Linked DNA regions of Homo sapiens. The protein of the gene in region 1 interacts with the protein of each later gene in a pairwise test. Each region holds a gene or a part of one and is shown in the gene's direction. Other genes may lie near its edges. The genes, in order: GPR37, SCAMP4, PUM1 and ZFHX2.

Region 1 (7,994 bases):
AACATTCTCAAAGTTATACATTTGTTATTTGTTATGGGTGGAAAGATTGGCTATTTTAAGGGATTGACCCTAAGACTAGAAAATTTCTTGGGAAGAAGGGGGCACATCTAGTTTCCAAACTTTGGAAACAAAAATCATTTTGAGTGAAATTGCATTGTTTCATCCTACAGCTAGTGTCCTGGCCCACTATTGTGGTAGGTGGACTTTGCTCTTTAAATGGCCTCTCTTTAAACACCAGCTCTTGGAAGGGGCCCAACTGTTTTGCTGCCAGTTGTGTTTTTAGCCAGCTGGCCCTTGATTTTCTCCATTCAGACTGTCCATTTCATTTATGGAAGCAGAAGAAGGGAAACTGTAAATATTCCGCAGCCCCTGATCCTGTCTGGCACCAGGGCCTGTGACACTATGTTCAACATTGTTCCAGGCCTAAAGCTGGGGGATAAGTAAACAGAAAACAGTACCTACTTAGACGGACCAAAGCTGGAGACAGTAAATAAGACCCTCTGTTATCTTGACAGGGATCAGGTGCAGGATCATTCCATGACTATGAAATCAGCTGTTGCTGCTTTAGCAGCGTCCATGATTTCTCCTGTTGCCAAGCTTGGCGTATCTCTGAAACATCTACTTTGTTTGGTAGACAATTCATTTTTGAATTGTGAAGGAGCCAGTTGAACTCATGTTAGAGAATATGTGTCTATTTACCAAACTGCCTCTTCAAGGTCAGTTTCAAATTTCTTTTTTTCTTTTTTTTTTTTTATCAGAAGAAATTGACTTATGCAAGAAAGAGACAAAAGTATAAAGCGGACAAGAGAGGTACCTCAATGACAGAGAAGTGTATTGGCTTATCTCACTGGAAATGTACTGGACATGTAGAAATCTGTATACACTAGAGGGAAAAACAATAGGACAGAAAAAGGAAATTGGGGAAAGAAAAATAAAAACACCAAAGTTCTTGAAAGAACACCTTAAAAGAAAAGAATATCAAATTCAGGAAAGATTATAAAAACTTTGGTTAATTTAATGAGATATAAGCATTTTGAGCAATGGCATTTATTATGTACTTATTTTAATTTTCTTTTTCCGTAATTCTGAGTTTGTACAAATGTAATACTTTCTTTCATTTGTATTTCACTTTTTAATTTAATCAGCTCCTCCTTAAGAGTGCTTTGTTTTTTGCCTCTTATTATTAGTAAAATCTTTTACTTTCTGTATTTTTGCTTAACTTTTCCCCATCCTAGTAGCTTTCTCTATTTTTCAGTTATTAGTGCTAGCATTTATTTTTCTTAGAGAATCAAAGGCTTAAAAAATTCACTCATTTATTTTTTAAAATTACAGTATAATATACATTTTTACTGTTAAAATAGTGAATGAACATCTTAATATGTAGCATTTCTATATTTCTACCTAATCCTTATTACTCTGAAATAATTTTAGAATGGTTTATAAAAATAATTATTGGACAATATTGCTGGCTTCATAATTCCTGATTACTGAGAACAAGAACTACAGTCCAAATCTCAAAATAAAAGTGTGTCTCCAGGAGGCACTGATGTTTTCACAAAAGTAAGAGGTATTTAGGGTTTCTCCTACGTTGGGTTCCTGCAAAAACAGGCCCTGAGATGTAGATTTATTGGGGCATCAAGTTTATTGGGTTGTGCTCTCAGGTTCAACCTATTAAGGAAAGAAGAAAGCAGGATTGGGCGGGCAAAGGGAGAAGTTGAACTGTGATGCAATTGCCACAGAGACCTCAGCTGACACCATTAGGAGCTTTAGGGCTGGGATGGCCATGCAGCCATATCCCAAATTGAGGCAAGAGGGCTCAGCCTTTACATCTCTTTATGGACCAGTCATTAGATGTAAGACATTGGATGCAAGCCTGCTCCCAGGATGGGGTATAACCTTGAGTTGGGTGGATCTCTTTGGTCAAGGGCAATTCCTAGAGAGGGATGCAGCTAAGCACTGTCAACCAATAGCCCCAGCAGCTGGAGGAATCAGTGCTTCATTCTTGAAGGACTTTGGAGGGAGCTGTCTGGGTGGAAAACCACAGCATCCACTACAGTAGCTTTTTTTTTTTTTTTTTTTTTGAGACGGAGTCTTGCTCTGTCACCAGGCTGGAGTGCAGTGGCACGATCTCAGCTCACTGCAACCTCTGCTTCAGGGGTTCAAGCTATTCTGCCTCAGCCTCCCAAGTAACTGGGACTACGGGTGCGTGTCACCACACCCGGCTAATTTTTTTTGTATTTTTAGTAGAGATGGGCTTTCACCATGTTGGCCAGGATGGTCTTGATCTCCTGACCTTGTGATCTGCCCACCTCTGCGTCCCAAAGTTCTGGGATTACAGGCGTGAGCCACCACGCCCAGCTTACAGTAGCTTTTGAACAATCATGTTAAATCAGACATAGATAATGTTCTAATCCAACTCCCTCATTTTAAAGATGAAATTTGAAGCTCAGAGACTATCCTAAACATATATACCTGGTCAGTAGCCACCAGACCCTTGGTCTCAATGCTTCATGTTTATATTTGCTGATTAGACCAACCTGTATGAAGCACAAGCTTTATCCAGTGAGTGTTTTCTTTTCCTTTCCGCTCCTTGGCATCTGAAAAATTTTTTCTTTTTTTAATCCACTAGACAGGAAAAAATAAAAACCCGTAAACATCATTTGTTATATAATGAAATGTATAGCTTCTTTTGTTTCTCATAAACTGTCAGTAAGTTCTGCAATTGGTAGTTAATTAAAATTTTTTAAATTGCAGTAATCTGAGACAACTATACTTTTTAATTTGCCTAGCATGATGACTTTAATGACCAAAAAGTTATATAGGTTAAATTTTATGTTCTTAAAATCATGAAGTATGTTAGATTGGTGAAGGACATTACAAGTACATTACATTTGTTCAAACTTTCTCCAAATCCCCTTCCAAAATTTTGCCTCTGACCTCAAGACTTTTAAAAATTTTTTGACATCTTGTCTACTTTCATATTTCTAAATTTTGCCATTCCTTCACTTGTTACTTTCTTATTTTATTTCTTGGCTATTTTTCCTTTCTTTAACTATGTATAATACCTTCTTATAGATTTATGATGTAGCATTCACCATTTTCCAGTAAGATGTTTAACCTTTTTCAGTGTTTTTATTTTTAATTTTTTCGTAGTTAATTTTAAATTTTATTCTCAATAGATTATGATTGAATTTTATAATTTTTCTCTCCCAGCTTCTCTTTTGCTTTATTTTTCTTTTCTACCACAGTTCTTTCTCCTGTACAGCTTGAGCGTTAGCATAATCTGAAGGGAATCGTGGGATTTTGGGGAAGATTTGGGTTTGTGTAGAAAAATATGAGGTACTTCTTGAGTAAAAACTATACTTTTTCTAATTTTCATTCAACTCCTCTTTCTATTTTAATTTGTTGGCCTAAAGCTTGAGGATAGCACCCAGCTTCCAAGGTCTATTGTGAGAAAGGAAGTTTTATGATGTTTAATATTGCCGTGAGTGAGAATGTTCTGGGAACTGTTGTAGTTGATGACTTTTCCCTTTCTATTCCAGGATTATGACATCTTTATGGCCTAATAATAAATCTCATAAAGTCGAAGGACAAATGAAATGGTAGGAAATGCCAGATAGGAGAGAAGAAAATTTGGATAGATCATGGCCGTCCTCCTAGACACATCAGTTTAAAGTGGTTTATTACTTAGCCACAAGAAAAAAACTATACTCAAAACAAAACTTGTATATGTAGTGTGCTTTTATGTGTATTAGGGGAGGTGGAGATATGTGTGGGTGTGGATTGCAATAGGAGAATGGCAGAGGAGTTCTCTACCATACCTACCATTCACTTAGGAATCTAACAAGTGTTTAAAACCAAATAATTTGGGCCAGGTGTGGTGGCACACCCCTGTAATCTCAGCACTTTGGGAGGCCTATGCAGGCAGATTGCTTAAGCCCAGGAGTTCAAGATCAGCCTGGCCAACAGGGCGAAACTCCATCTTTACAAAAAATACAAAAATTAACGGGATGTGGTGGTGCATGCCTGTAGTCCCAACCATTCAGGAGGCTGGGGTAGGAGGATTTCTGGAGCCTTGGAGGTTGAAGCTGCAGTGATCCATGATCATGCCACTGCATTCCAGCCTAGGTGACAGAGTGGGACCCTGTCTCAAAAAAAAAAAAAAAAAATTCAAATAATTCAGACATCAAATATGGCAACTGGAATGAATCTTTGCTCATTATTTAATGGAAGTCAGAATCAAGGTATCATCTGACCGAGATCCCAGATAACAGATTAAGGTCTGTTTGGACATTAATTGGAGGTTTTGAATGATCGAGATTCTCTTTAGTTTAAAGAACCCACACCTTCATGGAGTGTTGTAGAACAGAAGGCTTCAAATAATTATAATGAGATAACCCCAGATCTAACTGTATTTTTATTTTACTGGGATAAAACTCCTGCACAGAGGTGGAGAGAGAATAAAGGGAACATGTCTTACCATGGCCTCTGGTCTGGGAATAATTTGTGACAAGTCTAGAATCTTTTCTAATGAGAGGAACCAGCTTCTCCAATGACTTTAGCAATACTGGTTTTAAGTTGAGTGGAACAAATGGCTCTTTCATTGCCTTAGATTGTAGCTAGCACTGACAAGAAAGAAAGGGTTTTTGGAGGTTGAAGATGACAGTGCCATACAACTATCTGAGTCTACACAGATTTCCCTAGAACGCCTGTATTCAAGTAATAGAACATTTATCATGGCATATGGTAAATTTTCTTTGAGAGGTGGATTAGTCATTAGGTATTCTGCCGGACTTTTAAGTGGAAACTTACTGTTTTATGAGCAATTTTAAAGTTACTAATAGTATTCTTAGGGAAAATGTGCTCAATATATGAGAATGGTGCTGAACAAATATTTTATGACTTCCCATTAATCTTTTAGTAATCATTTTATATATTCCCATGCAAATGAAAATATTTAGCTGATGACTCTAACAGGAAGAAAAGTGTTTCTTAGAGTGCACTTTTATTTATAACTCCATTTCTGAATGGTGTATGGTGAAGTTAACTGAATTTGGATCTTCCACAAGAAAGAAAAGTTTTATAATATTCAAATAAGAAATCCAAATAGTTTCCTTTTCCATTGATCATAATGAGAATGTGTCCTTTTCTAAAGCTTGTCAATGAAGTATAAATAGGAAAATTGATTTTTTAACTTCCCTTCTATAGATATTGTCTGGCATTCAGCTTTTAAGGATTATATATAAAACAGCAGCACCCAATAACTGATTAAAGAACAATTTGAATAATTTATTATTTTCTGTAATCCTTTTCCATAGGTGTCATCATTCGTTCATTTGTTCACCATTCATTGATTTATCAAATGTTTACCTGGCTTTTCTTCTATGCGAGGTACTATTAGGAGTGGGCAGGAGAAGGCAATACAGGAAGAGGGGGAAAAGTTTCCAAAGATGAATATCATAGATGAGCCACTGCCATTAAAATTACAGAAAAGTAAAGTAATGTTCTACACCATGATGAATATTATAATAGAGGTTTGAACAAAGCATCGTGGAAGCTCAGAAATGGCACTGAAATGGGTCAAGTCACAGTTGTGCTTGTTATGACCAGAGATGGAGAAATTAAAGGGAAAACTGTGCTCCCTCTAATTCTTTTCAGTTACATTCTTACTATTAATCTTCATAAATTTCATAAATGCCTATACAGCCTAGATCCATGATGAAAAGTTACAAATGTGAAAATCTTTTAATTCTTGCTTTTTTGTTTCCTTTAGCTTTCCCAGGATAGAAAGTCCATAATAATAATTGGCAAAATAATTCAGCAAATAGTTCAGTTCTAGAAATTTCTTTTAAAATATGGAATTTGTGCCAGTGCCTAGGATATCTATCTCTGCTTTACAATTAGTCCTTATTAGCTATAAGGACACTAAATACGTCAAAATTAAACATTTTATTTAAATGAATGGCTTATTTGGCAATGTAATAACAGTATATTAAATTGAGTCCTTTTCTTCTGAAAAAATCAAAACATATACAAATTGTTTAACTTGACCTTGGAGAACCTAAGAAAGAAGATGGACAAGGGCGATACTTTAGACTCCATTGTGGAGTCGAGGAAAGGGGAGCACGATGAATGGACTTTCTCAAGAATTGGATTAATCTCTCAAGCACATAATCAGAGTGAAGATTTATTCTGAGCTCCTGAGGGCTCCCAAGGTATCCTGCCATGTCAGCAAAGTATCCTTCCACAGAGACAAGGAGGCAAATGTGTCTGCAGAAGTAAAACAGATATGAGCTTATAAGTTTACCGAAGGCTGAGTGGGTGAGGGTCTACCTTTGCTTTCATATTTAGGCTGCATGGACCTTGATACAATTTTTACACCTTTAATGGCATTCGTCTTATGTGCGGCAACCTTTTAACAGTATCCCATTGGAAGCACATGGACCTGTGTCTGGGATGTAGATTGTGGGAGAGGGATGGGAAGGCAGCTATGCAGTGCAGTTTGTCTCTGCCTCTGCACTTCTGCTCCATCCTCCAGGGATGCGCCTGTCATTTCACTTCCCATGAATTGACCTGCCAAGGTCCAATAATGAACTCAACCTTGTTGCCAAGACTAACTCTTAAATATCCTAATTGGAATAATACTCTTTGTGCCAGAAGAGATGATCTCATCCAAAATTTCAGAGTGGAGTTGAGAATGGGATTACTGCAACGTCAAATATGGAGGGTCTTTTTTTATTTGCAGAGTAAGTGTAGGTACTTTTCATAAACTTCCATAAAACGCAGGATATGATCACTGTGTCAGTCTTGTTCTTGAGACAGAATACTTTCCATTTGTGAATTTGTAATAGTTTTCAGTGTTATCTGTCTGTACACTTGAATAGTTCATAGCATTCATTAATGAGGCCAAGGTCATTGATTTGATCCCTGCCTAGAATGAGACATTCTTATTAGGTCTGTGACTCTATTCAGGGATGTTACTTTTTTCTTTTTTTCTGTCAAAATAGCCCCTTCCTCATCAATTCCCATCTTCAGGGCCTATCTTTACTATTGTCTTCCTAATTCAAATCCTTTTTATATCGGAAAAGCATCTGATAAGCCAATTCGCATCAAGATATGCAATTTAGAAATAACTGCCTTTTATAAGAAGATTGAATCAAGAAAGAAATTTCCTTAACAGACTACCAATAGTGAAATTTTGGTTAAAAGCAGATAAATTCTGTCCTAAAATATGGTTTCTCAATTTTATTAAAATCATGATGACCTAACTATACATAATTTTGTTTTTAGTTTGAGTTCACAGTCATGCAAATCAATATCATTAGTCAGAAAGGGAAATAGGTAAAAATGTGTTACTGCTTTTTGGAAACTCATCAGAACCCCAAGGTAAGGAACTGAAATTCCAGGTCACTTTAAGATTGACTAGGAACATCATAATAATACCAAAGATTGAGAACTGGACTGTGGGCTTGGGGGAAATATTACATTTTGAAATGATTTTGTAATTACTGAGAATAAACATGGAATCTTTAGAATCTAACATAGATGGTTTATATCTTAAGACAAAATGTTGCTAATCTTGCTTCATTTACATTTTTATTTTAATAAACACCTGACAGATTGATAGGAATTATAACATGTTAGGTTGTAGTTAAATGAATTTTTTTAACCATATAAGGAATGTACTGTGCTATAGACATCATAATTGGTAACAAACCTTAATTCAAGATAGGACTATAAAGGAAAAGAGGATTTATGGAATCAAGACAAGTTTTGGGAGAATATGTTGATTTTTAAATAGTCTTAAACGGCTTTTAAAATAAGGAAAGCGTGGTATCAAGCTTAGGCAAAAGAAGAGAAGGTGGAGAATGAGGCAGTAAGGACAGTTGATAGTTGATGCTTTCAAAATATTTTTCCCCCACGGCATTGGGAATCACATGTAAATGGAATAGTCTGAGTATATTAGAAATAAATGGTTATTTATTATATGTGGG
Region 2 (5,109 bases), on another chromosome or scaffold:
CCTGCCTTTAAGTTCCCTGAATTTTAAACCCTGTGGTTTCATCACCTGTTAAGACAAAAATCTCAAAATGACTGTTTTCTGCCTCCTGGGTCTCAAAGGCAGGTGCAATGCCCAGAGGCTGGTCCTGCACAGAGGGACCCAGGGCGTGCTGGCCTTCCCAGTGTCCCACTGGTGGCTGATCTAAGCAGTGCTTTCCCTCGTTTTTTTATTTTGAGACAGAATCTTGCTCTGTCCCCCAGGCTGGAGAGCAACGGCACGATCTCGGCTCACTGCAGCCTCCCGCTTCAGCCTCCCAGATAGCTGGGATTACAGGCATGCGCCCTCATGCCTGGCTAATTTTTGTATTTTTAGTAGAGACGGGGTTTCACCTTGTTGGTCAGGCTGGTCTCCAGTTCCTGGCCTCAAGTGATCCGCCCGCCTCGGCCTCCCAAAGTGCTGGGACGACAGGCGTAAGCCTCTGCGCCCGGCCTCCTCATTGTTTCTAATGGTCCCTCAGTGCCCACCGGGTGATGGTGGCAGATTTTCCATCCGCATTGCTCCCGGACATGCGGATGTAGGTTTCAGCAGTTCCCATCATTAGACACAGTTGCCGTAGGCTGGGTTCTTAGTAGCAGGCTCAGTGGGGCCTTTGAGTCTTTCCATGGCTGGTGCCCGCCGGACTCACTGAGGGAAACTAATGGGGAAGCACTGGTCTCCATTCCCTGCACGCACAGCCCACTGCTGCGATGGTGAAGGGATAAGGTTGTGTTCACGCGTCGAAGTTTGTGTCCACTGCACACGCGGCTCACTGCTGCGATGGTGGAGGGATAAGGTCGTATTCACGCGTTGAAGTTGGTGCCTCTCAGTATCGCTTTATGTTTGTTGGCCACTTGGTCGTCCTTGTATGAGCTGTCCACTCCTTGTTGATTGGCCAGAGCTCTTTACATGGGGAGGACCATGGGCCGGACCATGGGCCCTCATCCAGCAGGTGTGCAGGCACCCACGCACTCTCTTGTCCCTTGCAGCGGCTGGCTGTCGGCAATTGGATTCTTCCAGTACAGCCCGGGCGCTGCCGTGGTCATGCTGCTTCCAGCCATCATGTTCTCCGTGTCGGCTGCCATGATGGCCATCGCGATCATGAAGGTGAGTCCTCGGCTTTGTGACGTCCAGCCCTTACCCCTTCTCCATGAACCTCGTCACCCAACTGTCCCAGGTGGGTGAACGTCGAGGAGCCGGGCCCTCTCCCCACGGTGTCACGCAGGCCGCACTTCATCCCCAGCAGTGAGCTGGGATGACAGCAGGAGGCACTGTCACCAGGGACACTCCCAGGGACCCAGCGCCTGGGTTCCTATGGGGCCAGTCCTGTGGCCCCCTGGGCCGGGAGTCCAGACTCCAGAGGGAAGCAGGGGTTGTGTGTAAACCGCAGTGTTTGCAGGAACAGCTGAGGCCCTGGAGCTGTCCTGTCAGTGAGGGTGGGGCCCCTTGCAGGTTCCCGGTCACAGTTTCCATCTGAAGATAGCGGAAGTGTTGAGCTGGGCTCATAACAGAAACTTTCAGTTACAGCAAAATGCTTTTTTTTTTTTTTTTTTTTTTAGACAGAGTCTCGCTCTGTCACCCAGGCTGGAGTGTAGTGGTGCGATCTCTGCTCACTGCAAGCTCCGCCTCTGGGGTTCATGCCATTCTCCTGCCTCAGCCTCCCGAGTAGCTGGGACTACAGGCGCCCGCTACCGCACCTGGCTAATTATTTTGTTTTTGTATTTTTGGTAGAGACAGGTTTTCACCGTGTTAGCCAGGATGGTCTCAATCTCCTGACCTCGTGATCCTCCCGCCTCGGCCTCCCGAAGTGCTGGGATGACAGGCGTGAGCCACCGTGCCCGGCCTATTTTTTATATTGTAGTAGAGACAGGGTTTCACCATGTTGTTTGGACTGGTCTCGAACTCCAGAGCTCAGACAGTCTGTCTGCCTCGGCCTCCCGAAGTGCTGGGATGACAGGCGTGAGTCCCCGTGCCCGGCCGCCATGCTCATTTTCTGTCTTCTGCCTCCCTGTCCTCTGTCCTTGCAGGTGCACAGGATCTACCGAGGGGCTGGCGGAAGCTTCCAGAAGGCACAGACGGAGTGGAACACGGGCACTTGGCGGAACCCACCGTCGAGGGAGGCCCAGTACAACAACTTCTCAGGCAACAGCCTGCCCGAGTACCCCACTGTGCCCAGCTACCCGGGCAGTGGCCAGTGGCCTTAGAGGGAGCCTGCCCTGCCCCCACCGCCCACCACCTCCTCCCCTTCATTCCTGCTGCTACCCCTGGTCCCGAGGGCTGGGAGTACCTGGGGCCCCATCCCCCCAGCTGGGATGGTGGAAGCCGGTGGTGGCCACGGACCGCCCCCCTCCTGCCAGGGCCACAGAACCCGTGTTCATCTCATCCGAGAGCGGAGTTCCTCACAAGCACTCCCCAGCAGCCCTTGGCCTCTGCCGTCCACAGGACGCCCTCTTGCTCCCGGAAACGTGTGGTCACCCGCCGTCCACTGCACGGCTGGTACGGCCTTGTCTTCAGGTCTCGAGGCCTGACTCCGGGGGACAGGTGGCAGCAGGTCGGCCGCCCTCCCGTCCTCCCAGAGCTGCTGGCGCTGAGGTCAGAGCGGGTCTGATGGGGAGCTCCGTCTCACCGGCCACCCGCCGTCACCATGGCAGATGCCCTTGGCCGGAACTAATAAGAGGCGTCGGGGCCAGCTTCCGGTCCCCTGCAGTGATAGAGGGCTTGGTGCCTAGCTGAGTCCTCGCTGTCCCCGCCATCCCCTGATCTGTGCGGCTCCAGCCTCGCCCCCTCCCCACGTGCACCATACCTGGGGAGTTCCTGGTCCAGGGTATCCTGGGGCCACCCTCCCTGCCTCCAAAACAGGGATCCCTGGCAGGCTGTCTTTCCACGCCCCTGAGTTCAGAGTCGGGGACCCAGGCCAGGTCGGGAGCACAGCCGCTCCCCAAACCCAGCAAACCGGCAGAGAGCCGGTTTCCCAGCAGCCGGAGCCCTGCAGGAGAGGCCTTTGTGTTTTGTTTTGTTTTGTTTTTTCTCTTTTGAGACAAGAGTTTCACTCTGTCGCCCAGGCTGGAGTGCAGTGGTGTGATCTCGGCTCACTGCAACCTCTGCCTCCCGTGTTCAAGCAGTTCTCCTGCCTCAGCCTCCCAAATAGCTGGGATTACAGTTGCCTGCCACCACGCCCAGCTAATTTTTATATTTTTAGTACAGATGGGGTTTCACCATGTTGGCCAGGCTGGTCTCGAACTCCTGACCTCAAGTGATCCACCCGCCTTGGCCTCCCAAAGTGCTGGGATAATAGGTGTCAGCCACCGCGCCCAGCCTGGAGTGGCCTTTTATGAGAGGGGACCCGTCAAATCTGTGCCTTATGGAGGGGTCCGGCAGCGGCCACAATTGTCTTGTCCCCTCACCCCCCAACTCCCCCTGGAACACCTCTCCCAGGCAAGACATTTTCACAGCACCATTCACAACGGTTGGGCCAAAAAGAAACTTTTCCTTCATCATTTCCTGCACTCGCTGACCACAACTTTGGACACCCCAGGCTGCCACCCCTCCCCACCCGTTCACCCCCAGGATGCTGTTGCTGTAGGACGCCTGCTGCCCTGGAGCCCTCCCCAGGATGTGAGCCAGTCCCCTCGCTGGTACGGAATGCCGCTGGGTGCCCGGAGGCGGCCATGGTGTCTCGATGGACGGCAGCCAGGATGGAGCACCCATGGGTCTCACGGCCATGCTTCAGGGTCTTCAGGTCCTGCCCCCGGCCAGTCTGCCAAGAGGCACCCCCTTCCCCAGCCTCTCGCCTGCACTGATGCAGACAAAATCTCACCTGGCAGGCCCAACCCCCCCCCACCCCTCCCCCGCCGTGTGTGGCCCCTCGCCGCATCGTTGGGGTTTTGTTATGTGAAAATATCCTGGAAATAAATACATGTTTCTGCACTTAGAGCCAGGGACCTGCCGCGTTTGTGCTGTGAGCATGTGTGGTTCCCCCAGGCCGTCTTCTCCCTTGGGAGACCCCTCAGCATATGGCCTCTGGCAGGATGCCCCCCTGCAGCGCCTCCTCCCACCCAGGCCCCGGGTGCCCTGTAGCCAGGTGTGCCCAGGGCTGACCCTGCCATCCTGGCCAACGTGGTGAAACCCGGCCTCTACTAAAAATACAAAAATTAGCCGGGCGCGGTGGCGGGTGCCTGTAGTTCTAGCTACTCAGGAGGCTGAGGCAGGAGAATTGCTTGAACCCGGGAGGCGGAGGTTGCCGTGAACCCAGATCGCGCCACTGCACTCCCCACCGGCTCAAAAAAAAAGGAAACTTGCACAGATGGAAAGCCAGTGTCACTGGCCCTACGTAAAAAGCAAACATCGGCCAGACGCAGTGGCTCACGCCTGTAATCCCAGCACGTTGGGAGGCCGAGGTGGGCGGATCATCTGAGGTCAGGGGTTCAAGACCAGTCTGGCCAACATAGTGAAACTCTGTCTCTACTGAAAACACAAAAAATTAGCTGGGCGTGGTGGCACACGCCTGTAATCCCAGCTACTCGGGAGGCTGAGGCAGGAGAATCGCTTGAACCTGGGAGGCAGAGGTTGCACTAAGCCAAGATTGCACCATTGCACTCCAGCCTGGGTGACAGAGTGAGACTCTGGAGAGAAAAAAAGGGGGGTTGTGGGGTGTGGTGGCTCACACCTGTAATACCAGCACTTTGGGAGGCCGAGGCAGGCAGATCACCCAAGGTCAGGAGTTCAAAACCAGCCTGGCCCACATGGTGAAACCCTGTCTCTACTAGAAATACAAAAATTAGCCAGGTGTGGTGGCAGGTGCCTGTAATCCCAGCTACTTGGGAGGCTGAGGCAGAAGAATCAGTTGAACCTGGGAGGCAGAGGTTGCTGTGAGCCAAGATAACGCCACTGCACTGCCACCTGGGTGACAGAGCAAGATTCTGTCTCAAAAAACAAACCCAGCCGGGCGCGGTGGCTCACGCCTGTAATCCCAGCACTTTGGGAGGCCGAGGCGGGCGGATCACGAGGTCAGGAGATCGAGACCATGCTGGCTAACACGGTGAAACCCCATCTCCACTAAAAATACAAAAAATTCTCCGGGCATGCTGGCGGGCG
Region 3 (7,994 bases), on another chromosome or scaffold:
GGGGTAACTAAATTCTAAGAGTCTTAAGCACGATGACTTTAAATTTACCAAAAACTTTTATATTTATCTCATTTTCATTAAGAAAAACCCAAAACATTGAGAGTCATAGAGGAAGGATTTCTTTCATTTTCTAGATGAGGAAACAGGTAGTTTTGTTTAGTGAAAGAACTTGGGTTTTGGAACTCTTGGCCTGCTCTAGAACAAAGATTGTTAGGTCGAGATTTCCTTTTAGAACAGAATGGGACTGTCTAGTATTAGTACTAAGAGAGTAATGAATTCTTTAAAAAACCAAGCAGGGAGGCATTAGGCTGGTTTGCACTTTTGAAAGACCGATGGTGAAACCGGGCTATGACTTTTTGGTTTTGGTACTTGAGCAGGGACTAGTGTCTAGGTTAGACTACTCCAGTACCCTGCTAAGGTTCTGATGGATTGGAATTCTTAACCTAGACTAGGCATTTCCAAATTAGGCTTTAAACAAATTACAAATTCCATTGTGTCTTCTTAGGCTGGCTTCAAAAACATGAATTTAGTTGTGAGAAGCAAATGCTACTTTATCAGAAGGTTTATTTATTCAACAGAGAGATAGTAGATTTGTTATTCATGTGTTTTTGAAGCATCACAGTGGGGGTTGGGAGAAGAGATAAAGCATTTGTAGCAGTAGACTGTTAGGCCGATGGCTTTGAAATTAGACCGTGGCTGTGGACAGGTGTGTCCTAATTGGTAACTGATTTATTTACTTTGTAGCTTTTTTTTTTTTTTTTTGAGATGGAGTCTCACTCTGTCGTCCAGGCTGGAGTGCAGTGCCTTGATCTCGGCTCACTGCAACCTCCGCCTCCTGGGTTCAAGCGATTCTTCTGCCTCAGTCTCCCGAGTAGCTGGGACTACAGGTGCGTGCCACCACACCTGGCTACTTTTTATATTTTTAGTAGAGACGGGGTTTCAGTATATTGGCCAGGCTGGTCTGGAATTCTGACCTGGAGATGCGCCTGCCTCCGCCTCCCAAAGTGCTGGGATTACAGGCGTAAGCCACCGTGTCCGGACACTTTGTAGCATTTTTTAAAAGCACCCACAGGCTGGCAAGTGTTCTATCTTAAGTACAGATGCAGTTTTTGGTTTTAAGGAACTTTAGTGTTTCATAGTAACATTTGAGGGATTCTTTGTTGGTCTTCCAGAGGAGTAGAGGATACAAATGAGACATATTGTTGAGTTACTCCTGCAAGGGGTTAGTAGAAAGAAGTAAGCTTGGGAACGATTAGGGTTTGAATCCTTTCTCTGCTACTTGCTAGTTGAATGGCCTTGGAAACATCCCATTTTCCTCCTGTACCTTAGTGTTTTCATTTGTAAAATAGAAATAATAATGGCTACCTTTCAATGCTTTTGTGATGAGACAATGTCTGCGATATATTCATTACACTATTACCGTGTTGAAGCTTCTGTTTGTTTGTTTGTTTTTGAGACAGGAACTCACTCTGTCGCCCAAGCGGGTGTGCAGCCTCCCGCTCCTGGGCTCAAATGATCCTCCCACCTCAGCCTCCCTAGTAGCTGGGACTATAGGCACATGCCACCATGCCTGGCTAATTATTTTTAGTAGAGATAGGTCTTGCTATGTTGCCCAGGCTGGTCTTGAACTCCTGGGCTCAAGCTGTCTGCCCACCTCAGCCTCCCAAAGTGCTGGGATTGTAGGTATGAGCCACCACACCCAACTGAGGCTTCTGGTTTGTATAGTGAGGCTTTCTTTTTTTTTTATAATTTAAAAAAATTATTTTATTTATTTATTTATTTTGAGACAGAGTCTCGCTCTGTCGCCCGGCTGGAGCACAGTGGTGCGACCTCTGCCTCCCTGGTTCAAGTGATTCTCCTGCCTCAGCCTCCCAAGTAGCTGGGATTACAGGCGCGTGCCACCAAGCCTGGCTAATTTCTGTGTTTTCAGTAGAGTCGGGGTTTCACCATGTTAGCCAGGATGGTCTTGATCTCCTGACCTCATGATCCACCCGCCTCGGCCTCCCAAAGTGCTGGGATTACAGGCATGAGCCACCGTGCCCAACCTCCATTGGCCTTCTTAGAGCCTTATTTTTTAATAAAATAATAGAGATGGGGGTCTCACTGTGTTGCCTAGGCTGGTCTTCAGCTCCTGGCTCAAGCGATTCTCCCTGCCTAAGTCTCCGAAGGTGCTGGGATGACAGGAGTGAGCCACTGTGCCCAGCCTGTAGTGAGGCTTTCTACACTAATATGAAGTGTTTAAATTTGGTTTGGTCTCATCCTGTTTATAGTAGTTGAAGTACTAATGGCATAATGTGATTACAGTTAATAGTTGTAAGTTACTGGTAAAAATATTAATGCTTTTAAAAATCAGTGACAACTGAGGAGAGGGCTTAGGCTAAAAGCATTCTGCTGCTGTTCTTGGTCAGAGGGTTTTATTGTTTCTTTAAGAAATATCCTATCAATATATTGGAGGTTTTATTTATTTATTTATTTATTATTTTTTTTTTTTTTACTGAAACAGAGTCTCGATTTGTCGCCCAGGCTGGAGTGCAGTGGTGCGATCTTGGCTCACTGCAACCTCTGCCTCCCGGGTTCAAACGATTCTCCTGCCTCAGCTTCCCAAGTAGTTGGGATTAAAAGTGTGTACCACCACACCCAGTTAATTTTTGTATTTCCAGTAGAGATGGGGTTTCATAATGTTGGCCAGGCTGGTCTCGAACTCCTGACCTCAAGTGATACACCTGCCTTGGCCTCCGAAGTGTTGGGATTATAGGCGTGAGCCACCTCGCCTGGCCAATATGTTGGACACTTTAAGGGATCCTTTCAAATTACACAATCTGAGCCATTGCTACTTATATATGGGTTTAGGCTTTTGTTTAGTTATTAGCATATGTCTGCTCCAGCTGTAAAGTTGTGATTGATTGATTGATTGATTTTTTGAGAGAGAGTCTCGCTCTGTCACCCAGGTTGGAGTACAGTGGCATGATCTCGGCTCACTGCAACCTTTGCCTTCTGGATTCAAGCCATTCTCCTGCCTCAGCCTCCCGAGTAGCTGGGATTACAGGTGCCCAGCACCATACCTGGCTAATTTTTATATTTTTAGTAGAGATGGGGTTTCACCATGTTGGCCAGGCTGGTCTTGAACTCCTGACGTCAGGTGATCCACCCACTTTGGCCTCCCAAAGTGCTGGGATTACAGGCATGAGCCACCACACCCGGCCGAAGTTGTGATAGTTTTAAAAAGGCTTTTGGGGCTGGGCGCGGTGGCTCACGCCTGTAATCCCAGCACTTCCGGAGGCCGAGGTGGGTAGATCACCTGAGGTCGGGAGTTCGAGACCAGCCTGGCCAACATGGTGAAACCCCGTCTTTACTAAAAATACAAAAAATTAGCCACCCGTGGTGGTGGGCGCCTGTAGTACCAGCTACTCAGGAGGCTGAGGCAGGAGAGTCGCTTGAGTCTAGGAGGCGGAGGCTGTAGTGAGCCGAGATCGCGTCATTGCACCCTAGCCTGGGCAACAGGGGCAAAACTCTTGTCTCAAAAAAAAAAAAGCTTTTGTTCATTTAAAAACTGTCAGTTGGTTTGAGGTATAAGTAAGTTGGGTAGACTGATAGAAGTCTAATTCTGTATTGCTATGTGTTGGTTAACAACATAAACTTCTCTGAAGTGGTAGTATTGAGTTCTGATCCCAATACCTTGCCAGAGTGCATGCCACCAACGACATTTATTTATTGTAAAAGACATGGGGTTCATGTTTTTATCTTAGTGTGTTTTATGTTTCAAAAGATGGAAATATTAAATATTTGTAACCTGTTTGTCCTTAGGTGTTGGTGGAATGAGCGTTGCATGTGTCTTGAAGAGAAAAGCAGTGCTTTGGCAGGACTCTTTCAGCCCCCACCTGAAACATCACCCTCAAGAACCAGCTAATCCCAACATGCCTGTTGTTTTGACATCTGGAACAGGGTCGCAAGCGCAGCCACAACCAGCTGCAAATCAGGCTCTTGCAGCTGGGACTCACTCCAGCCCTGTCCCAGGATCTATAGGAGTTGCAGGCCGTTCCCAGGACGACGCTATGGTGGACTACTTCTTTCAGAGGCAGCATGGTGAGCAGCTTGGGGGAGGAGGAAGTGGAGGAGGCGGCTATAATAATAGCAAACATCGATGGCCTACTGGGGATAACATTCATGCAGAACATCAGGTAAAAAAAAGTTCACTATTTTAGCTTTGACATTCCTTTATAATCACTGTCCACTTAGGATATCTGCTTTCAATGAATGTCTTTAAAAACTTAAATTGCTGATTTCATTTGGTACAAACAGTTACTTGTTATAAAGGTTGATCATTGTAATACTGTTACTGGGTCATTTATCATTCTGGTGCTAAATAGTAAATAGCCAATTCATTCATTCATTCATTCATTTGAGACAGAGTCTTGCTCTGTCACCCAGGCTGGAGTGTAGTCGCCTGATCTCGGCTTGATCTCGGCTCACTGCAGCTGCTGCCTCCCAGGTTCAAGCAGTTCTCCTGCCTCAGCCTCCTGAGTAGCTGGGACTACAGGTGTGCACCACCACGCCTGGCTGATTATGTATTTTCAGTAGAAACAGGGTTTCACCATGTTGTCCAGGCTGGCCTCGAACTCCTGACCTCAAGTGATCTGCCCGCTTCGGCCTCCCAAAGTGCTGGGATTACAGTTGTGAGCCACCCACGCCCGGCCTATAGAATGCATTTTTTTTTTTTTTTAAGACGGAGTCTCACTCTTTTGCCCAGGCTGGAGTGCACTGGCGCGATCTCTGCTCACTGCAAGCTCCGCCTCCCAGGTTCATGCCATTCTCCTGCCTCAGCCTCCCGAGTAGCTGGGACTACAGGTGCCCGCACCATGCCTGGCTAATTTTTTGTATTTTTTTTGGTAGAGACGGGGTTTCACTGTGTTAGCCAGGATGGTCTCTATCTCCTGACCTCGTGATCCACCCATCTCGGCCTCCCAAAGTGCTGGGATTACAGGCGTGAGCCACTGCGCCCGGCCTACAACGCATTTTTAAGAACACTTTTTTTGGAACAAAGGATTCTTTTTTTTACTGTTGACATAAGAACTGCTAGGGTTGTTTATAGGATAGATACATATTTTTGAATCTTTTCTCTTGGGTGTGGGTGACTTGATTTTAAGATGTTGTAGTTGAAAGTAGGGGGAAGTTGATAACATCAGCTGCTCAAGTGAAATTTATTTGAAATGGGACTGATATATTGTGTCAGAGAGAAGTGGTTGTGGCTTTTAGGTTTTAACCACCTTTGTCCTCTTGTTATTGTTTAATTTTTAATTTTAACATGTTCAGTCTTATTAATCTAAAACCATAGTGGGAATCATAGCATATTTTACTGAGAAGAGAGGTTAGCCTTATCCATGTTTCCTGATTTCTTGATAATGACCAACCAAAAGATTAGACTGTTTTGATCAGGGTATTCTTTGAAATTGGGTATAGGTTGAATTTGGAAAGGTTCATTTTGTGTCACCCGTCAGTACTGATTAGCGAGAACTGACATTTTTCATTAGGCTTCTAGTGCTTCTGTTTTACTTCAGAAAAAATCAGGTACAAACATACCTGCAAGTCTGATTTTATTATACTTCCTCTGATCCCCCCAAAAGTGAACCATAGTTGTTTTTTTTTTTTTTTTTTTTTTTGAGATGGAGTCTCGCTCTGTCGCCCAGGCTGGAGTGCAGTGGCACAATCTCGGCTCACTGCAACCTCCCCCTCCCAGGTTTAAGCAATTCTCCTGCCTTACCTTCCCGAGTAGCTGGGATTACAGGCACCCACCTCCATACCTGGCTAATTTTTGTATTTTTAGCAGAGAGAGGGTTTCACCATGTTGGCCGGGCTGGTCTTGAACTCCTGACCTCATGTGATCCACCTGCCTCAGCCTCCCAAAGTGCTGGGATTACGGGTGTGAGCCACCATGCCCAGCCCTTTTTTTTTTTTCTTTTTCTTTTTTTTTTTTTTTTTGAGACAAGGTCTGGCTCTGTCATCCAGGCTGGAGTGTGGTGATATGATGATATTGGCTCACTGCAACCACGGTCTCCCTGGTTCAAGCGATCCTCCCACCTCAGTCTCCTGAGTAGCTGGGACTACAGGTTTGCAACACTACACCCGGCTACTTTTGTATTTTTTGTAGAGACGGGGTTTTGCCATGTTGGCCAGGCTCTACTTTGAGCCCAGGCTCACAGTGATCCACCTGCCTTGGACTCCCAGAGTGCTGGGATTGCAAGTGTGAGCTACTGCATCTGACCAGTTCTTTACTATAGTCGAAACAAAGACAGGCTGGGTGCAGTGGCTCATGCCTGTAATCCCAGCACTTTGGGAGGCCGAGGTGGGTGGATCACCTGAGGTAAGGAGTTTGAGACCAGCCTGACCAACATGGTGAAACCCTGTCTCTACTAAAAATGCAGAAATTAGCCAGGCGTGGTGGCGCATGCTTGTAATCCCAGCTACTTGGAAGGCTGAGGCAGGAGAGTCACTTGAACCTGGGACAGGGAGTTTGCAGTGAGCTGAGATCTTGCCATTGCACTCCAGCCTAGGCAATGGGTGAAACTCCATCTCAAAAAATAAAGTAAAAAATTAGCTGGGCGTGGGGGCACATGCCTGTGTTTCCAGCTGCTTGGGAGCCTGAGGTGGAAGGATTGCTTGAGCGTGGGTGGCAGAAGTTGCAGTGAACAGAGATCATGCCACTGCACTTCAGCCTGGGCAACAGAGTGGGACCCTGTCTCAAAAAAAAAAAAAAAAAAAAAAAAAAAAAAAAAAAGAAAAGAAAAGGAAGGTTTTCAGCTGTAAGGCTGAAAGAAGGCTCACCCCTGCAATCTCAACACTTTGGGAGGTCAAGGCAGGTGGATCACCTGAGGTCAGGAGTTCAAGACCAGCCTGGCCAACATGGTGAAACCCCGTCTCTACTAATAATACAAAAAAATTAGCCTGGCATGGTGGTGCACACCTGTAATCCCAGCTCCTCGGGAGGCTGAGGCAGGAGAATCGCTTGAACCCGGGAGGTGGAGGTTGCAGTGAGCAGAGATCACACCATTGCACTCCAGCCTGAGTGACAAGAGCGAAACTCTGTCTCCAAAAAAAGAAAAAAGAAAGATTTTCTCTTTCTTTGGGATGAAGATATGCACAGAATTTGGTGATTGAATTAGAAATCTTATATCCTGGAAAGATGAAGTAATGGAGGAAAAGTACAGAGTGCCTCTGGTTTGGGACACAGTGATTACATTTGATAGGACACCTGTTGAGTTTGAGGTAGAAGCAGAATATCTGGGTGTATACTGTAGGCAGCTCTACCTGTAGCAGGAAATCAAGGTAGGAGGTATTTGATTTGGGTGGCATCTGTGTAGTGGGGCAAAAACAAACCCTGTAATCTCTGTACTATTTGGCTAAATGTTATTCAAAAATCATAAACATTGGTTTTTTAAAATCTGTAATAAAGATCTATAAGATCTTTTGTTGTGTTTCCTAATGATAGACTGATGGGTGGAAGCTGAAAGGAGAGTCAAGGTGCCTGGCAGGTTCTTTGCTAGGTGAGCAAATCAAACTCTAGGTCAGTCCTTGGCAGAGCTCTAAGATCTGATTATTGCTGTGCAAGTTAAGAAGCGTTTATTGAAGGCTTACTCAGGCCTCTGTCTTACACTGAGCCCTATCATAAGGAATCACATCTGACTTACTGAGCAGTTTTATCCAGGTCAGTTAGCAAACTTGAGTTAATAATAGTAAATGGCAAAACCTGTTTCCCACTCAGGTGGCCTAAACCAGTGACCTTGGAATTGGCATTCATCATTACAACACAATTCTTTGGGCTGGACGCATGAAATAATGAACAACGTTGGGGAACTCAGGGTAGTTGGTATATTGCAGTTGTGGACCACCCACAGGTTACTTTTCTGTAGTCATTATAGTGTATTGTACTGGTTTTAGTGTTGTTCTCACCTTCTGGACTGAACTATTCTAGATCAGAGACTTGTGTTTTTCATGCCCCT
Region 4 (7,994 bases), on another chromosome or scaffold:
CATGGCCACCCTTAACTCAGCCTCTACCACTGGTACCACCCCCTCCCCTGGGCACAATGCCCCGTCCCTGCCTTCGGACACCTTCTCCTCCAGCACCCCCTCTGATCCTGTCACCAAAGATCCCCCTGCTGCCTCCTCCACCTCTGAGAACATGAGGTCCTCAGAGCCAGGGGGACAGCTCCTGGAGTCGGGCTGTGGCCTCGTCCCACCAAAGGAGATTGGGGAGCCCCAGGAAGGGCCTGACTGTGGTCACTTCCCACCAAATGACCCAGGGGTGGAAAAGGACAAGGAGCAGGAGGAGGAAGAAGAAGGGCTCCCTCCCATGGACCTAAGCAACCACTTATTCTTCACAGCTGGAGGTGAGGCCTACCTAGTGGCCAAGCTGTCCCTGCCAGGTGGCAGTGAACTCCTGTTACCAAAGGGCTTCCCCTGGGGTGAGGCGGGCATCAAGGAAGAGCCCAGTCTGCCCTTCCTTGCCTACCCACCCCCCTCACACCTCACTGCCCTTCACATCCAACATGGCTTTGACCCAATCCAAGGCTTTAGCTCTTCTGACCAAATTCTGTCCCATGATACCTCAGCACCATCTCCGGCTGCCTGTGAGGAAAGGCATGGAGCTTTCTGGAGCTACCAGCTGGCTCCAAATCCACCCGGAGATCCCAAAGATGGCCCCATGGGGAACAGCGGGGGCAACCACGTGGCGGTCTTCTGGCTCTGCCTTCTGTGCCGCCTGGGTTTCAGCAAGCCCCAGGCCTTTATGGATCACACACAGTCTCATGGGGTGAAGCTAACCCCTGCCCAATATCAGGGCCTGTCAGGTAGCCCAGCTGTACTCCAGGAGGGAGATGAAGGCTGCAAGGCCCTCATAAGCTTTCTGGAGCCAAAACTCCCTGCTCGCCCCTCTTCTGACATACCCCTTGACAACAGCAGCACAGTGAACATGGAGGCGAATGTGGCCCAGACAGAGGATGGCCCCCCTGAGGCAGAAGTCCAGGCCCTTATCCTCCTGGATGAAGAAGTTATGGCCCTCAGCCCACCCTCTCCACCCACAGCCACCTGGGACCCCAGCCCAACCCAAGCCAAAGAATCGCCAGTAGCAGCAGGCGAGGCAGGGCCAGATTGGTTCCCTGAGGGGCAAGAAGAGGATGGAGGGCTCTGCCCCCCACTCAACCAAAGCTCACCCACCTCCAAGGAGGGGGGCACTCTCCCTGCCCCAGTGGGCTCCCCCGAAGACCCCAGTGACCCACCCCAGCCCTATCGCCTAGCTGATGACTACACCCCAGCCCCTGCAGCCTTCCAGGGCCTCAGCCTGTCCAGCCACATGTCCCTGCTCCACTCACGCAACTCCTGCAAGACACTCAAGTGTCCCAAGTGCAACTGGCACTACAAGTACCAGCAGACCCTGGATGTGCACATGCGAGAGAAGCACCCTGAGAGCAACAGTCACTGCAGCTACTGCAGTGCTGGGGGCGCCCACCCCCGCCTTGCTCGTGGAGAGAGCTACAACTGTGGCTACAAACCCTACCGCTGTGACGTCTGCAACTACTCTACAACCACCAAAGGCAACCTCAGCATCCATATGCAGTCTGACAAGCACCTGGCCAACCTACAGGGCTTCCAGGCGGGCCCTGGTGGGCAGGGAAGTCCACCAGAGGCATCACTCCCACCCTCCGCGGGAGACAAAGAGCCTAAGACCAAATCATCCTGGCAGTGCAAGGTGTGCAGCTACGAGACAAACATCTCCCGTAACCTGCGCATCCATATGACCTCTGAGAAGCACATGCAGAATGTCCTAATGCTGCACCAGGGGCTGCCGCTGGGCCTGCCACCTGGATTGATGGGGCCAGGCCCTCCTCCCCCACCAGGGGCTACCCCCACTAGCCCCCCTGAACTCTTCCAGTACTTTGGGCCCCAGGCCCTAGGGCAGCCTCAGACTCCCTTGGCTGGCCCGGGGCTGAGGCCAGACAAGCCCCTGGAAGCCCAGCTACTTCTCAATGGTTTCCACCACGTAGGAGCACCTGCCCGCAAGTTCCCCACATCCGGTAAGCTTCTGTGCTTCTTCCCTCTTCTCTCCTCCCCAGGGCCAAACTCTATTCCGTGCTTTCTCCCAAGGACCAACTCCCCACTTAGGTAACCATAAGTCCCTCTGAGCACTATCCTACTCATTAACCCACCTCCCCACATAGAGAACCAACCGTGCCCCATTTCTTTCTTGGGCCACTAATCTGTCTCTGTCCTCTAGCCCCTGGAAGCCTATCCCCTGATGCCCACCTGCCTCCAAGTCAGCTCCTGGGTTCCTCATCTGACAGCCTGCCCACCTCACCACCCCCAGACGACAGCCTGTCCCTGAAGGTGTTCCGCTGCCTAGTGTGCCAGGCCTTCAGCACAGACAGCCTGGAGCTGCTGCTCTACCACTGCAGCATAGGCCGGAGCCTCCCGGAAGCTGAATGGAAGGAGGTGGCTGGTGACACCCACCGCTGCAAGCTTTGCTGCTATGGCACCCAGCTCAAGGCCAACTTCCAACTCCACCTCAAGACTGACAAACATGCTCAGAAGTACCAGCTGGCAGCCCACCTGCGGGAGGGGGGTGGAGCCATGGGCACCCCTTCCCCAGCATCCCTGGGAGATGGGGCTCCTTATGGGTCTGTCTCCCCACTACACCTGCGCTGCAACATCTGTGACTTTGAGTCCAACAGCAAGGAGAAGATGCAGCTGCATGCCAGGGGTGCAGCCCACGAAGAAAACAGCCAAATCTATAAGGTGAGGCTGGGTCAGGAAGGGCCATCGGAAGAGGAGAAGGGAATGGGGACAGAGGGAGGAGATGCAGAATAAGAAAGTGATAGGAAAACCCTGGGTGACAAATGGAGAAAAAGGAAAGTATGCACCAGGTAATGACATATGTACCAGGGTAACAAAGTGACAGACATGGAGAAAGAGACCAAAGGATAGTAAACTCTGACAAGTGAAACAGACTTTATTCAGCTCTTCTGGTGTTTGGCCCTGGAGGGAGGGGTGGTATCAGCTCAGTTTGTCATGTCACCAGAGGTTCAAGAGGATGGAACCAGACTCCATTTGCATGCTGGGAGGGAGTCCAGGAGTGGTAGGAGAAAGAGAAAGGGTTGGGGAGAGCAAGCAATAATACTTAGGTGGCCATAGGAGGGAAAGGGGGGGTTTCAGGAGCAGGAAGCGAGGGGTGGGGAGGGGGCTGCTGCTAGTCAGTCTCCCTTAGGGAAGGCAAAGAAGTCCCCTGAGGCTAGGTGCGGTGGCTCACGCCTGTAGTCCCGGCACTTTGGGAGGCCGAGGCGGGAGGATCACTTGAAGTCAGGAGTTCGAGACCAGCCTGGCCAACATGGTGAAACCCCATCTGTACTAAAAATACAAAAATTAGCCAGGTGTGGTGCGCATGCCTGTAATCCCAGCTACTCGGGAGGCTGAGGCATGAGAATCACTGAACCCAGGAGGTAGAGGCTTCAGTGAGTAGAGATCATGCCACTGCACTCCAGCCTGGGCAACAGGGCAAGACTCTCTCTAGAAAAAAAAAAAAAGTCCCCTGAGGTCTGGCATGTCCCTTCTGGGCCTGAGCCAGCCTCTTCCCATGGTTCTAGTTTCTGCTGGACATGGAGGGAGCGGAGGCAGGGGCAGAGCTGGGGCTATACCACTGCCTGTTGTGTGCGTGGGAGACACCCTCCCGCTTGGCTGTGCTGCAACACCTGCGCACACCTGCCCACCGCGATGCCCAGGCCCAGAGGCGTCTGCAGCTGCTACAGAATGGCCCAACCACTGAGGAAGGACTCGCAGCTCTTCAGAGCATCCTGAGCTTCAGCCACGGGCAGCTCCGGACTCCCGGTGAGGAAGAAGGGACTGGAGAATAAGAGCTGGGCAGGGAGGGCAGCAGGATGTGGGGAGCAGGGGGGCTGCGGAGTTAGAGATACAAGGAAGGCGAAGAGGGCCTGTAGGCCACCTATACTAAATGGGAAGAAGCTGCGAAGGGATAAGACAGAATGAGCGTGTCAGGCACTGTGGAGGCTACCTTGAGTGGAGGGGCAAAGAAGGGCAGGGGCTTTGCTGGGTGGATGACATAGAACAGGAAGAGGGTGAAGAGGAACCACCCAGTGATTCTGAGTAGTGACTAGTGTCCTGGTAATGCTGGAGGGTGGCAGGCTGGAGCTGGGTAGGAAGGAGAGAGAACCTGTTTTGTGCTGGGCCAGGGCTTCTTGGAAGGAGATAGGAGCTGTGGGCATGATCCAAAGGCAGCAGGGATGGGAAGAGGCCCCTGACAAGCTTCCCAGCCTCTTCCTGTCTCCTAGGAGGTCTTCAGCCCTAAGGCTGGGCTTAGAGTCACCCTTAGGCAGCTGAGGTTGTACCAGCAGAGGCCGGGAACAGCCAGCCAGGCACCATTGATCCAGAGGGTACAGGAGAAGAGCCTGCAAGGGGCTGCCAGAGGTGGGCATGGGCGTCGGGCTTTGCAGAGCCAGTGGTGGGCAAGGGCGAGGGCATGGGCAGCAGGAGCCAGGAACACGCAGCATTGACTGGTGCTAATTGAATTGCCAATATGCTGGCTGGAGTTAAGTGCCGGAGGGGCCCAGATCAATAGCTAACGATCCTGGCGCAGGGCTGAATGGAGTTAAGGAACTTTAACACTTTAATTAGGCTGCCACCGAAAATAAATTCCTACACATCTGTCAATTCTTACTTGAGCGGTAATCTCCTCTTCCAGCTAGACCTGCCACTTCCTGCTCACTGCAGCAGCTGCTTCCATTCAGCCAAGGCTTCCTTCTTCAGTGCCCCTCCTACTACATTTCTCTGGGGCTTCCCATTTCCTGGGTCATTTAAGACAGGGAGCTGAGTTTGGTCTTGTTTCTGCTGTCTACTGCTGGACTTCTATAAAAGGACAGGAACTGGACTCTTAATAAAATGATCTCTTAGGCCCTACCAGTTCTAATACTGTAATTTTCCCTCTATCTTCTGTGTGGGTGTTTCTTTTTGTTGGCTTTTCATACTCTCCTACCTGCTGATTGAGCCATCCATTTTCTCCTTCATTGACTGGCTGCTTGTCCTGCTTCCTCTGTCCTATGTCCTCCCTTCCCTGATGCCACACCTCTTTAAGCTGACTCTCCCCCCATCCTACACAGGGAAGGCTCCTGTCACCCCCTTAGCTGAGCCACCCACCCCTGAGAAAGATGCCCAGAACAAGACAGAACAATTGGGTGAGTTTTCCCTCCCTTCCCCCCAGTCCTCCTACCTTCTGAGACGCTCACGGGACCTTGCAGTAATCCAGGAGCCCAGCAATGTCTGTGCTCAAGGAGCAAAACTGATTAAAGAAAGGGCTCATCAGGGGGAAGGGAGGCTGAGCCACGAGAGGCTAGGCACTTCCGCCCTCTTTGAGAACTCAGACCTGACCATCCTACTGACCCGGAGTCAGCCCTTGCCAAGCCTCACCTATCTACTGAGTTTCCTGCCCTTTCTCTAGTGCCCAACTCCCTACCCTGGAAGCTCTCTGCTACAAATCATCTTGAGGGCTGTCAGGGTTCCTTAATCTCCTCTTCTTTCATCCTCAGCTTCAGAAGAGACAGAAAACAAGACTGGCCCTTCCAGAGACAGTGCCAACCAGACCACGGTCAGAATTGGGGTAACTGGGAAGAGCTGAAGTGGGGGCCTGGCTTTACTGAGATCTGCTCATATTCTAAAGGCAGACGTAATTTTGTCATGCTTTGACTTATTTCACTCAGAATAGCACAGTTAAGAAATTCCACCCAGATCCAGTTCCACATGTTCAGCACTTTCGGGGGCAGAGCTGGCCCAGCAGGGTCAAGCACAGAGGGAGATGATAGGAGGGAGACAGCAGGAACTTGAGGGAAAGATGAATAAAGGAATTGTGCTGAGAGTAGGAAAGAGTGGGGGTACATGCTGGAAGGAGGGGAGGAGAAAGGCAAAAGCAAACAACCAGCTACTGCCCAGCTCTTTATCCCTTAGTTAGGAGCAGAAAGACAAGACACCGGTGTTCCTACCCTACAAAACGCCCTGAGCCTGGATGGAACTGTCCTGGCATCCTCTTACTAAGGGTAGGGGCACCAACCAAATGATTCACACTGACAGCATGTGCCACAAATCTCTAAATCCCCAGGACTCAGACCTAGGCAGCACCCAGGAATGGCAGCTCTGTGTTCTGAGGGGATTCCCAGCCTCTGGTTTGAGATGCCATCCTGTGCCTCACAGCTCTCCAAACTGGACTACAATATGTAACATTTATTGTTATTGCAATACGCAGTGTTACTGCATTACTGCAAGCTGAAGTAATGCCTTATGTCCTCAGCATCTTTTCTTCCTAACTCCTGCTCCCGCCAACAGACCTCTTCCAGATGTCTGCTCCAGGGGCTAGGTGCGTTAAGATGAGCATCTGGATCCCCTTCCTTTACAGTCATCCCCTCCCTGACACACAGGCCTGTGCCACTGGTGCCAGCCTGGATGCAGGCTGGGTAGGTCTGGCAGTCAGGTGATGGTGGGGCCTCTGGCAGCCTCACCCCTCTGGAAGTGTGGCTGAGAATGTGCTGAGAGGGCTGGGCCAGAATTTTCCTGGGCCACTGGGGGAGCTGTGGTGTTTATTCACATTAGGAAAAAGAAGAAGGAAAAAGAAAGATGGAAAATAAGGTGGGAGCTGCTGAGCCTGAGGGAGGATGAGCTGGCTTCTGAGCAGACAGGTAGGGCCCCTTTCCAGGTGATGGTTCACAGAGGCAGAGTGGGCAGGGACAAGGGAGCCTCTGGGTCCAGAAAATGCCCAGAGGAAATGGAACCATTTCACAGAGAAGACACGACAGGATAGGATAGGTAAGAGAAGAAAACTAAATCCAAGGTGGGGGCAGTAGGTACAGAGCCATCTGTTAGCTGGAGAGTTGAGGCAGGCAGCAAAGACTGGGAAAGACACACCAAGAAAAGGCAGAGAGGCCAGGATGGTGGAAGAGGGCCAGACAAAGAAGGAGTGCAAGGTAGCGGCCTAAGCTAGGCCTTTGTCCCAATCCAAGGGAAAGTGGGGAGGAGCCAGCTCTCAGGACTGTGGCTGGAGGCTGGGTCTGCTATAATGCCTTCCTATCTGGCTAGTTCCTCTTCAATTAGGAGTGAGAGGCCAAGCGTGGTGGCTCACGCCTGTAATCCCAGCACTTTGGGAAGCCAAGATGAGTAGATCACCTGGCATCAGGAGTTCAAGACCAACCTGGCCAATGTGGCAAAACCCTGTCTCCACTAAAAAATACAAAAATTAGCTGGGCGTGGTTGCACACGCCTGTAATCCCAGCTGCTTGGGAGGCTGAGGGCAGGAGAATTGCTTGAACCTGGAAGGCGGAGGTTGCAGTGAGCCGAGATCACGTCACTGCACTCCGGCCTGGGTGACAGAGCCAGACTCCATCTAAAAAAAAAAAAAAAAAAAAAAAAGGAGTGGGGGCGGGCCAGTGCTGCATCCAAAGGACTATGTGATGGTGGGTCCCATCCTTCCCTGACACTTCGTCCACTGCCCATATGTTCCCTCCAGGTATACTGCTGTCCATACTGCAGCTTCCTGAGCCCAGAGTCCAGCCAGGTGAGGGCTCATACACTCTCCCAGCATGCAGTGCAGCCCAAGTACAGATGCCCACTGTGCCAGGAACAGCTGGTGGGCCGGCCTGCCCTGCACTTCCACCTTAGCCACCTTCACAACGTGGTGCCCGAGTGCGTTGAGAAGCTGCTGCTTGTAGTGAGTACAGGCTGGGTGAGGACGGTACAACAAGACCTTATTAGGGCTGTGCAGGAGGGGAGGAAGAGGCAGGGGTATTCAGGCAGGTGCATGTGTTGGGGGCAGGGGGCATTCAGGCAAGTGCGTGTGTTGGCTGGGTGAGGACGGTCCGACAAGGCCTTGTTAGGGCCATCCAGGAGGGGAGGAAGAGGCAGGAGTATTCAGGCAAGTGCATGTGTTGGCAACAAAAGCAGCATTTCATGGATTTGAAGTTGGATTTTAGAGAGGGAGA

What was found.
Region 2: the proteins of GPR37 (region 1) and SCAMP4 interact in binary tests that used the Homo sapiens proteins (3 or more experiments, as listed by UniProt).
Region 3: the proteins of GPR37 (region 1) and PUM1 interact in binary tests that used the Homo sapiens proteins (3 or more experiments, as listed by UniProt).
Region 4: the proteins of GPR37 (region 1) and ZFHX2 interact in binary tests that used the Homo sapiens proteins (3 or more experiments, as listed by UniProt).

The regions. Positions count from the first base shown.
Region 1 is NC_000007.14:124,755,242-124,763,235, reverse strand, and holds part of GPR37 (prosaposin receptor GPR37 precursor), read left to right. Parts: intron 1-7,994.
Region 2 is NC_000019.10:1,922,066-1,927,174, forward strand, and holds the end of SCAMP4 (secretory carrier-associated membrane protein 4), read left to right. Parts: intron 1-1,004; coding exon 1,005-1,122; intron 1,123-2,042; coding exon 2,043-2,219; 3' UTR 2,220-3,948; downstream 3,949-5,109. UniProt on the Homo sapiens protein: Probably involved in membrane protein trafficking.
Region 3 is NC_000001.11:31,055,388-31,063,381, reverse strand, and holds part of PUM1 (pumilio homolog 1), read left to right. Parts: intron 1-3,804; 5' UTR 3,805-3,815; coding exon 3,816-4,178; intron 4,179-7,994. UniProt on the Homo sapiens protein: Sequence-specific RNA-binding protein that acts as a post-transcriptional repressor by binding the 3'-UTR of mRNA targets.
Region 4 is NC_000014.9:23,527,333-23,535,326, reverse strand, and holds part of ZFHX2 (zinc finger homeobox protein 2), read left to right. Parts: 5' UTR 1-1; coding exon 2-2,042; intron 2,043-2,242; coding exon 2,243-2,760; intron 2,761-2,954; exon of another isoform or gene 2,955-3,605; coding exon 3,606-3,846; exon of another isoform or gene 3,847-4,881; intron 4,882-5,132; coding exon 5,133-5,207; intron 5,208-5,242; exon of another isoform or gene 5,243-5,558; coding exon 5,559-5,617; coding exon of another isoform or gene 5,618-5,629; intron 5,630-5,662; exon of another isoform or gene 5,663-6,062; intron 6,063-6,612; exon of another isoform or gene 6,613-6,674; coding exon of another isoform or gene 6,675-6,698; intron 6,699-7,522; coding exon 7,523-7,723; intron 7,724-7,994. UniProt on the Homo sapiens protein: Transcriptional regulator that is critical for the regulation of pain perception and processing of noxious stimuli.